2 separate regions of the Homo sapiens genome follow, and region 2 is linked to region 1. The links come from fine-mapping of genetic effects on gene expression. A gene starts in region 1. The other region holds a variant in brackets. All regions are shown on one strand. Distances are between the middles of the regions. Region 1 holds the start of ACP2 (acid phosphatase 2, lysosomal). Region 2 overlaps DDB2 (damage specific DNA binding protein 2).

The links. PIP is the estimated chance that this variant, and not a neighbour inherited with it, causes the effect. A credible set is the group of variants that fine-mapping cannot tell apart.
Region 2: its variant is the best candidate, but not a certain one, in a credible set for the expression of ACP2 in whole blood (TOPMed, PIP 0.53).

Annotation. Positions count from the first base shown.
Region 1 is chr11:47,245,835-47,251,207 of GRCh38, forward strand. ACP2 (acid phosphatase 2, lysosomal) reads right to left here and starts at 2,980. Exons shown (of 11, transcript NM_001610.4): 1 at 2,842-2,980; 2 at 2,204-2,299; 3 at 1,807-1,893. The coding sequence starts at 2,955. It also overlaps a transcript of NR1H3 not described here. RefSeq lists enhancers at 2,446-2,535, 2,666-3,175 and a silencer at 3,256-3,423.
Region 2 is chr11:47,223,123-47,228,495 of GRCh38, forward strand. All of the region lies in intron 3 of DDB2 (damage specific DNA binding protein 2), which reads left to right. Among named protein-coding and RNA genes, the nearest start is that of DDB2, 11 kb to the left of the region's middle. The variant C/T (reference allele first, on the strand shown) is at 2,312.

The DNA.
Region 1 (5,373 bases):
CTGCAGCGATAGCAACACAAGTCGTGTGTGTGTGTGTGTGTGTGTGTGTGTTGGGGAAGTTTTGGTCACCCTGAAGTGGAGCCTTGTATGTATGTGTGTGTGTGTGGTGGGAAGTTTTGGTCACCCCAAAGTGGAGCCCCAGAGGAGAACCTGTTCCTGATGGTCACCCAGCAAACTAAACCTACCATACATCTGGCCCTCACCCTCCTCTGGCCTCTGGCCTTCCCCATCCCCCAAACACTCCACTGGGGGTTGTCACCACTCTGTGAAGAACTCTTGTGGGAATGGCCTTAGTTGAAATGCCCCTTCCAGTCAAAAGTGCTGAGTCAATCAGTAAGGCTCTCTGGTCTGTCTGGTTTCATAACAACACCTCTCTCCCTGTCTAGATCAGGGTCCTTGGGGCAGAAACTGGCTCCAGTGACGACCCTTAGAGACCAGGGAGAAAAAAATAAGATAAAGGGCTGGGCCTGGTGGCTCACACCTATAATCCTAGCACTTTGGGAGGCCAATGCAGGAGGATCGCTTGAGGCCAGGAGCTCGAGACCAGCCTGGGCAACATAGTGAGACCCTGTCTCTACAAAAAAAAATTTTTTAATTACCCAAGTGTGGCGGGCACTTGTAGTCCCAGCTACTTGGGATGCTGAGGCAGGAGGATCACTTGAGCCCAGGAGTTTGAGGCTGCAGTGAGCTATGACTGAGGCATGTGCTACAGTTTGGGTGACAGAGTGAGACCCCTTTAAAATATATGTATATATTTTGGGCCGGGCACGGTGGCTCATGCCTGTAATCCCAGCACTTTAGGAGGCCGAGGCAGGCGGATCAGCTGAGGTCAGGAGTTCAAGACCAGCCTGGCCAACATGATGAAATCCTGTCTCTACTAAAAATACAAAAATTAGCCAGGCATGGTGGCACACACCTGTAATCCCAGCTACTTGGGAGGCTGAGACAGGAGAATCGCTTGAACCTAGGAGGTGGAGGTTGCAGTGAGCCAAGACCATGTCACTGCACTCCAGCCTGAGCAACACAGCAAGACTCTGTCTCAAAAAAAAAAATTTTTTTTGAAGAGCTTATTCAGAGATAGTGGCTCATGAAAAGGGAGGAGGAAACTGGGGAAGGACAAGCTCAGGACAGAGCTGGGCCTTAAGAGAACAATAACAATGTCTATGGATTCTTGATACGGCTGAGGCTGACAGTGGTAATCAGAGGAACAGCTTCCCCCATTCCTGGGGTGGGGCGAAGACTCAAGGAGCAGGCACACTCACCAGTCCTCCCTGATGTGCCCTAGGAATATAGCACGACCTGGCGCAGCAGACAGGGCTCAAAAACCTCATCTTGATCAAGAAAAGACAAGCCCTCTCTACGCATGTCTTCCCCGCTGTCTTTCATCTTGGCCCTGTCTGGTTTATCATTAGATACCCCCACAACATTCTAAGCTCCATGAAGACAGAGATCATATCTGTATGGTGCACAACTGAATGCAAAGTGCTAGCACAGTCCTTGGCCTTTAATAGGTACTCAATGTCTTGGATGGAAAGCCTGTGATTTCACAGTCAGAAACCACTTTGCCAGGCCCGCCCTTAAGTCCGAATTTGGATGCTTAATCAAATTTGCCTCATCCCAGCCAAGCAGGGGCAACTCAGCTCCTAGGGCTTTGTTCCAGACAGCTCTCAGATGTCTTTTCCTGTAGTTGTGACCAAAAATACAAGAAGGAGGCCAAAGTGCCCAGCCTCAGCCTTAGGCTCCCTGAGGGCAAAAGATGAGGGCAGCATACCTTGTTCCCCTTGCCTCTGGAGCTCCCAACCTTACCTCTTGCCGGTGATAAGAGGTGTTTAGGAAGCCGTGATAGCGCTGCCGCAGGGCCTGGCCCAGTTCCCAGTGCTGTAGCATCCCCTCCTGTGGGCAAACCCAAGGGTTAAGAGGGTCTAGAGGGAAGGGGTGGCTTCAAGCCCCATGGGGTTTAGGCCCTGTTGCTTTCCAGGTTCACGCTTTGCTGGAGTCAATTAATCTGATCCCAGAAGTCTTTCATTAAGTGGCCAGTCATGCACAGCAATATCATGGGCACAGAGATTAAGGTTATGAAATCTGGTCAAAGTCAGCACCCATATGGGAAAAGGCAGTTTAGTAGGACCCCAAGTTTTGTAGACTGCTCTAGACGTCGCTCATTCTGCAGCTCATCCTGAGGAAAGGCTGGCTTCTGACCCACCTTGGTTAACTGACCAAACCCCTGGGGCCATTCTTCTTCCTGATAGGGGTCCTTGGGATATGTCTTCACTGGTGAACGGTCTCCATGGCGGTACAGCTGAGAGAATAAAATGGTTTGCCTATAGGTCAGAAGCATCCCCTTGATAGGGACCCAGAGCCTACCTTTTGCCCCATGTTAGGGAAGGAAGTCTCATTCCCTCTGGGAAGCCTACTGGCTGCAAAAGACCCCAGCTAGGAGTCAGTCACTTCTTCCAGATTCCAGAGATTCTAACTTAGCTAAGCAATGCTACTGGAGACCATAGGCAAAGCCAAGGTACAGGTAGGAAGGGAAAAGAGAAGTGAAAGCAACGTATGTGGTGGGGACAACTGGGGAAAAAAGATAACCAAAGGCTTCTTTAGGGATGAGTCTTAACCATTCAACCACTTCCCTGTCTCAAGGCAGACTCACCCCGACGTATTCGGTCATCCTGACTCCCATAAGCCAGGGCTCCAGGTCAATCCTGAATCCAGCCTCCCAACTACCCAGGCCAGTCGTCCCCTCCTAAACCAGCTGTTCCTTCCCGAGATCCTCGACCTCCACCAGCTGGCCTTTGCCCTTTTAGCTTCAGGGAAGTCTTTGGTGAGCCCATCTCTCATTACCAAGGTAACGAAGCGCAGACTCCGGGCCCGGGTGGGCGGCATCACCACCAGGTTCACGCCGAGAAGGAGCTGGAGGAGAGCCGCCCGGCTCCAGCCGGACCGCTTGCCCGCCATCACCGTTGTAATCTATGCAGCAAACAAGCTGGAACCCGCTGGGTGGCACCTGCAAGCAGCCGCCCGGACGCACCCGTAAGGACACACGCCGGAAGTGCGTTCGCCGCCATCTTACTTAGGGACCTGCTGGGGTGCGGGGAAAAGGCGCAGTCTCGGTGGGATTGCGTGCAGGAGGGTCGTGGTCTGGCTGTGGCGGAGGAGCATAAGAAGGTAACGCGACCTGGCGCGGCAGACAGGGCTCGAAGACCTCATCTTGATTAAGAAGGCCACAAATTCGCGTTTGCCTCTGCTCGGAGAAATCCCTTACCAAGGTGGCACTTGCAGTGGGCGGGACCATGTCTGGAGAACCAGCGTCCCCTCCAGGCTTGACCCCATAGCTAGATCGGGTGCAGAATTGAGGCGAGGGATGGGAAAGTAGAGGTCGCTTCTCTCCACGCCCCTGCCTTTGTGGGGAGATTGAGCCCTGGCCCTGTTCTCCAGGAGATGTTTTGCTTGGGGTGCAGGACACAGTATGTAAACAACCCTTTGGACTCCGTGTGTCCTTGAGGTTGCCCCAGTCTGGCCTACCGTTCCTGCCCTGCACAAAGCTTCAGTAGCCCTCTCACTTTCCCTTCCAGTCCTTTCCCTGTCCTCCCTCCCCTCCACTTCCAAGTTTTAGTTAATTAGAGTCAAGACGTCATGTCATGCCTCTTCCCAAAGGAGTTGGGTTGCACAGGATGTTCAGACTTTACAAACCCAAAGCACTGAATCCCTGGGGGAGGAATTTCAGACCAGTGGGGAGGTATTTTGAGGTAAGGGACAGGCGCATATCATAAAGTGGGAGTAGGTGGGGTTTCCACAGAATCAATGGCCCTCTTGGCATTGACCATTAGGATTCAGGTGCAGCCAGTTTGGCCTCAGGACTTTGTGACTCCTGTGACGGTTGCAGGTCAGATCATAGGTCCTGGGGATGCTTTGATTCAGATCTGCCTACTGGAAGCAAATCTCCTCAGATCTTTGGGAAACAAAACTGATCAGGCTTGGCCTGGGCGCCGTGGCTCACCTGTAATACCAGCACTTTGAGAGGCCGAAGCAGGCAGATCACCTGAGGTCAGGAGTTCGAGACCAGCCTGGCCAACGTGGCGAAACCCCGTCTCTACTAAAAATACAAAAAAAAAAAAATTAGCCGGGTGCAGTGGCGTGCTCCTGTAATCCCAGCTACTCTGGAGGCTGAGGCAGGAGAATCGCTTGAACTCGGAAAGCGGAGGTTGCAGTGAGCTGAGATCACGCCACTGCACTCCAGCCTGCGCGACAGAGTGAGACTGTCTCAAAACAACAACAACAAAAACCTGATTAGGCTTGGTGTGGTGGCTCACGTTTCTAATCCCAGCACTTTGGGAGGCCAGGGTGGGAAGATTGCTTGAGCCCAGGAGTTGGAGACCAGCCTGAGCAGCTTAGGAAGATCTCCTCTCTACAAAAAAAAGTTTAAAAATTAGCTGGGTGTGGTGGCACACACCTGTGGTCCTAGCTCCTCGGGAGGCTGAGGTGGGAGGATCACCTTCAGCCCAGGAGGTTGAGGCTGCAGTGAGCCATGATGGTGCAACTGCACTCCAGTCTAGATGACAGAGCAAGACTGTGTCTCAAAAAGAAGAAAAGAAAAAAAAAGATCAGGATTATCTGTCTTTATTTTGTCCTAGGACTCCAGATTCAATTATTTATATATACTTCAGGATTTAAACTTTGCTTCCAGAGTTGTCATGGAGGAGGCCAAGAAGCAAATAGAGTAAGAGCCAAAGCCTGGGTAGCCAAACAGTTCTTAACCTTCTTATTTAATCACAAGCCCCTTTATGAATCACATGAAAATTTTGCACCTCTCCTCCAGAAAAATGTTCACACATATAAACACACACATGGAATTTTGCATATAATCCCAAATGGTTCACAAAGACCATTTATTACAGGTTTCATAAATCAGCATCTCTGAATACCTGATTTAACCTAGTCCTCTTACTTTACAGCTTAGGAAACAAACCTAAAGAGAGGAAGTGACTTGCCCAAATTCACAGTTTGGGCATGGGCACAGTTTGAGAATGGATTAAAAGTCAAGTTTTGGCCGGGTGCGTGCTCACGCCTGTAATCCCGGCACTTTGGGAGGCCGAGGCGGGTGGATCACGAGGTCAGGAGATCAAGACCATCCTGGCTAACATGGTGAAACCCCATCTCTACTAAAAATACAAAAAGTTAGCCGGGTGTGGTGGCAGGTGCCGGTAGTCCCAGCTACTCAGGAGGCTGAGGCAGGAGAATGTCGTGAACCCAGCAGGCGGAGCTTGCAGTGAGCGGAGATCGTGCCACTGCACCCCAGCCTGGGCGACAGAGCAAGACTCCGTCTCAAAAAAAAAAAGTCAGGTTTTGTGATTTTCAGTTAAATAGTCTATAATG
Region 2 (5,373 bases), 23 kb before region 1:
GTAAATTAAAATTGTATTTTATTGCATACAATATATTTGTTCACAGTTTTCTCCTGTCAGTACTTTAAAGATGATGTCTAGGCTGGGCGCTGTGGCTTACGCCTGTAATCCCAGCATTTTGGGGGGCCAAGGCAAGTGGATCATTTGCGATCATGAGTTTTAGACCAGCCTGGCTAACATGGTGAAACCCCGCCTCTACTAAAAATACAAAAATTAGCTGGGTGTGGTGGCGCTCACCAGTAATCCCAGCTACCCGGGAGGCTGAGGCATGAGAATCTTGAACCTGGGAGGCAGAGGTTGCAGTGAGCCGAGATGGTGTCACTGCACTCCATTCTGGGTGACAGAGCAAGACTGTGTCTCAAAAATAAATAAATAAGGCTGGGCGCGGTGGCTGACACCTGTAATCCCAGCGCTTTGGGAGGCCGAGGCAGGCGGATCACGAGATCAAGAGATTGAGACCACCCTGGCTAACACGGTGAAACCCTGTCTGTTCTAAAAATACAAAAAAAATTAGCCAGGCGTGGTGGTGGGCGCCTGTAGTCCCAGCTACTTGGGAGGCTGAGGCAGGAGAATGGTGTGAACCCAGGAGGCAGAGCTGGCAGTGAGCCGAGATCGGCCACTTCACTCCAGCCTGGGTGACAGAGCAAGACTCCGTCTAAAATAAATAAATAAATAAAGAATAAAAATAAAGATGATTTCTAGTTGGGCTCAATGGTTCATGCCTGTAATCTCAACACTTTGAGAGGCTGAGGCTGGGGGACCTCTTGAGGCCAGGACTTTAAGACCAGCCTAGGAAACACAGCAAGACCCCATCTCTACAAAAAAATCTTAAAAATTAGCTAGTGGCTTGAACTTGTAGTTCCAGCTGTTCAGGAGGCTGAGGTGGGAGAATTGCTTAAGCCCAGGGGGACAAGGCTTCAGTGAGCTAGGCAAGCCTGGGTGACAGAGCAAGATCCTGTCTCAATTAAAAACAAAACAAAACAAAACATCCTGATGAGAAGTCTGCTACTATCCTTATGTTCCTGTCTATGTAATTTTTCTTCTGGTCGCTTTAAAAATGATTATGATGTGCTTGTGGGGGGATCACTAAGCTTCTTTGATTTATGGATTTTTTTTTTCTTTTGAGACAAAGTCTCACTCTGTCGCCCAGGCTGGTGTGCAGTGCCACAATCTCGGCTCACTGCAACCTCCACCTCCAGGGTTCAAGCGATTCTCCCTGCCTCAGCCTCCCGAGTAGCTGGGATTACAGGTGCCCACCACCTCACCTGGCTAATTTTTGTATTTATTTATTTTTATTTTATTTTTTTAGTAGAGACAGGGTTTCACCATGTTGGCCAGGCTGGTCTTGAACTCCTGACCTCCAGTGATCCGCCCACCTTGGCCTCCTGAAGTGCTGGGATTACAGGCGTGAGCCACCTTGCCCAGCCCATTATTTCTTACAAAGAGTTCAAAATGAAGAAAAAGAACAGTTCTTTTTTTCTTGGGACTGCGATTACATATGGTCCTGCAGGTGGTTGATGCACTGTTCATTTTTGTCTTTTTCCCTGTTTCATTTTGTGCAGTTGTTCACTGATCTTTACTTCTGTAATATCTAACCTTCTGCTGTCAATCCCTCCCTCCCTCCCTCCCTTCGTTCCTTTCTCTCTCTTCTCTTCCTCTTCCTTTTCTCTTCTCTTTCTTGCCTGTGCAGAGCAGGGCTGCTCCATAGGCAAAGTAGCCCAGCGTATTTTTCATTTCAGATACTGTATATCCCCTCTAGAAGTTTAATTTGGATTTTTTTTCATGTCTTCCATTTCTCTCCTCATATTTATTATTTCCTCTTCTTTCTTTTTTGAGATGAGGTCTCACTCTCTCTTCCAGGCTGGAGTGCACTGGCATGAGATCTCAGCTCACTGCAACCTCCACCTCCCAGGTTCAAGCGACCCTTCTGCCTCAGCCTCCTGAGTAGCTGGGATTACAAGTGTGCACCACCACGCCCAGCTAATTTTTGTATTTTTAGTAGAGACCAAGTTTCACCATATTGGCCAGGCTGGTCTCAGACTCCTAACCTCAAGTTATCCACCCACCTTGGCCTCCCAAAGTGCTGGGATTACAGGCTTGAGACACTGCTCCTGGCCCGATCCTGTGTCTTTAAAAAAAAAAAAAAAAACTCTAACAAGTAATACTGCTTTTTTTAAAAAAAATTGTGGGCCAGGCTCAGTGGCTCACGCCTGTAATCCCAGCACTTTGGGAAGCTGAGGTGGACGGATCACAAGGTCAGGAGATCGAGACCATCCTGGCCAACATGGTGAAACCCCGTCTCTACTAAAAA[C/T]ACAAAAAATTAGCTGGGCATGGTCGTGGGCGCCTGTAATCCCAGCTACTGGGGAGGCTGAGGCAGGAGAATCACTTGAACCCGGGAGGCAGAAGTTGCAGTGACCCGAGATTATGCCACTGCACTCCAGCCTGGGCAACAGAGCGAGACTCCATCTCTATTTTAAAAAAAAAAAACAAAAAACTGGTAGAAAACACGTAAAACAATTTACAATCTTTACTATTTTTAAGTGTACAGTTTAGTAATGTTAACTATATTCACATTGTTGTGCAACAGATCACTAGAACTTTTTTCTTGTAAAACTGAAACTCTATACCCACTGAACAAGCCTCCACTTCTCCCTCCCCTTAGCCCCTGGCAACCACAGTACTACTTTCTGTTTCTGTGAGTTTGACTACTTTAGATATCTCATCTAAGTGGAATCATACAGTATTTGTCTTTTTGTGACAGGCTTATTTCACTTAATGCAGTGTTTTAAGATTCATCCATGTTGTAGCATGTGGCAGAATTTCCTTTTTTAAGGCTGAATAATGTTCCATTGTTTGCGTGTACCACCTTTTGTTTATCTGTTTATTAATTGACAGACACTTGGGTTGATTTCATCTTTTGGCTATTGTGAATAATGCTGCAGTGAATGTGGATGTGCAAATATCCCTTTGAGACCCCGATTTCAGTTCTTTGGGGCTTATGCCAATAAGTACGATTGCTTCATCAAATGGTAATTTTGTTGTTCATTTTTTGAGGAACCGCTATATTGTTTTCCATACTGGCTATACCATCTCATGTTCCCATCAGCAGTGTACAAATGTCCCAACTTCTCTACTTCCCCACCAACATTTATTTTCTTTTTTTTTTTTTTTGAGATGAAGTCTCCCTCTGTCGCCCAGGCTGGAATGCAGTGGCACAGCCTCAGCTTACTGCAACCTCTGCCTCCTGAGTTCAACTGATTCTCCTGGCTCAGCCTCCAGTAGCTGAGATTATAGGCGCACACCACCATGCCCGGCTAATTTTTGTATTTTCAGTAGAGACGGGTTTTGCCACGTTGGCCAGGCTGGTCTTGAACTCCCGACCTCAGGTGATTCATTTGCCTTGGCCTCCCAAATTGCTGGGATTACAAGTGTGAGCCACCATGCTCGGCCTTTTCTGTTTTTTTGATAGTGGCCATCCTAAGGGATGTGAGGTGATAGCAGTGTAGTTTCATTTGCATTTCTCTAATGATTAGTGATATTGAGCATCTTTACGTGTGCTTCTTGGCCATTTGTATATTTTCTTTGAAGGAATGTCTATTCAAGTCCTTTGCCTTTTTTTTTTTTTTTTTTTTTTTTTGAAACAGGGTCTTACTTGGTCACCCAGGCTGCAGTACAGTGGCACAATCATAGCTCACTGCAGCCTCGAACTTCTGGGCTCCAGTGATCCTGCTGCCTTAGCCACCCGAGTAACTGGGACTGCAGGTGCTCACCATCATACCTTGCTAACTTTGTTTTGTTTTGTTTTTTTCGCTGTCTCTTACAGAAAGGACTTACTAAGTTAAAAAAAAATTTTTTTTTATAGAGATTGGATCTTGCTATGTCTCCCAGGCTGGTCTTGAACTCCTGTTTGCCTGTTTTTTAGTTGGGTTATTTGTTGTTGTTTTGTAGGGGTTCTTTATATATTCTGGATATTAACCTTTTTTTTTTTTTTTTTTTTTTTTGAGATGGAGTTTTGCTCCTGTTGTACAGGCTGGAGTGTAATGGCTCAATCTCGGCTCACTGCAGTCTCCACCTCCCGGGTTCAAGCAATTCTCCTGCTTCAGCCTCCTGAGTAGCTGGGATTACAGGCATGCGCCACCATGCCCGGCTAATTTTTGTGCTTTTAGTAGAGACAGGGTTTCACCATGTTGGCCAGGCTGGTCTTGAACTCCTGACCTCAGGTGATCTACCCGCCTCGGCCTCCCAAAGTGCTGGGATTATAGGTGTGAGACACTGCGCCCGGCCATGATATTAACCTCTTATCAGATCTATGATTTGAAAATATCTTCTCCCACTTCATAGATTGCCTTTTCACTTTGTCGATTGTTTCTTTTGATGCCTGAATTTTTTTTTTTTTTTTAATTTTGAGATGGAGTTTCACTCTTGTCACCCAGGCTGGAGTGCAATGGCGCAATCTTGGCTCACTGCAACCTCCACCTCCCGGGTTCAAGCAATTCTCCTGCCTCAGCCTCCCAAGAAGCTGGCACCCACCACCACGCCCAGCTGGCCCGATTGATTTTTAATAGTTAAACCAACTTTGCATTCTTGGAATAAGTTCATCCTGGCCATAACATATTTATCGTTTTTAAATATTACTGGATTGAGCTGGCAAATATTTTAAGATCTTTGCATTTGTGTTCATGTGTAAAATTGGCCAAATCCTTGTCACATTTGTGTATCAAGATTATGCTGATTTCTGGCCAGGCGTGGTGGATCACGCCTGTAATTCCAGCACTTTGGGAGGCCGAGGGGGTCGGATTATGAGGTCAGGAGATGGAGACCATCCTGGCCAACATGGTGAAACCCCGTCTCTACTAAATATGCAAAAATTAGCTGGGCGTGGTGGCGCACTCCTGTCATCCCAGCTACCCGGGAGGTTGAGGCAAGAGAATCGTTTGAACTTGGGAAGTGGAGGTTGCAGTGAGGTGAGATCGTACCACTGCACTCCAGCCTGGCAACAGAGTGAGGCTCTGTCTCAAAAAAAAAAAAAAAAAAAAAAGATTATGCTGATTTCTGTGAATTGCTTGAGCCCAGGAGGCAGAGGTTGTAGTAAGCTGAGTGCACCACTGCAGTCCAGCCTGAGCGACAGAGCACAACTCTGTCTCAAAAAAAAAAAAAATTATGCTGCCCTCTTTAGCTTGGGAATTATTCCCTCTTTTTCTAGTCTGTGGAGACGGAGGGTTTAAGATCAATATCTGGCTGGGTGCGGTGGCTCACTCCTGTAATCTCAGCACTTTGGGTGGCCAAGGTGGGCAGATCACCTGAGGTCAGGAGTTCAAGACCAGCCTGGCCAACATGGCAAAACCCTGTCTCTACTAAAAATACACAAAAATT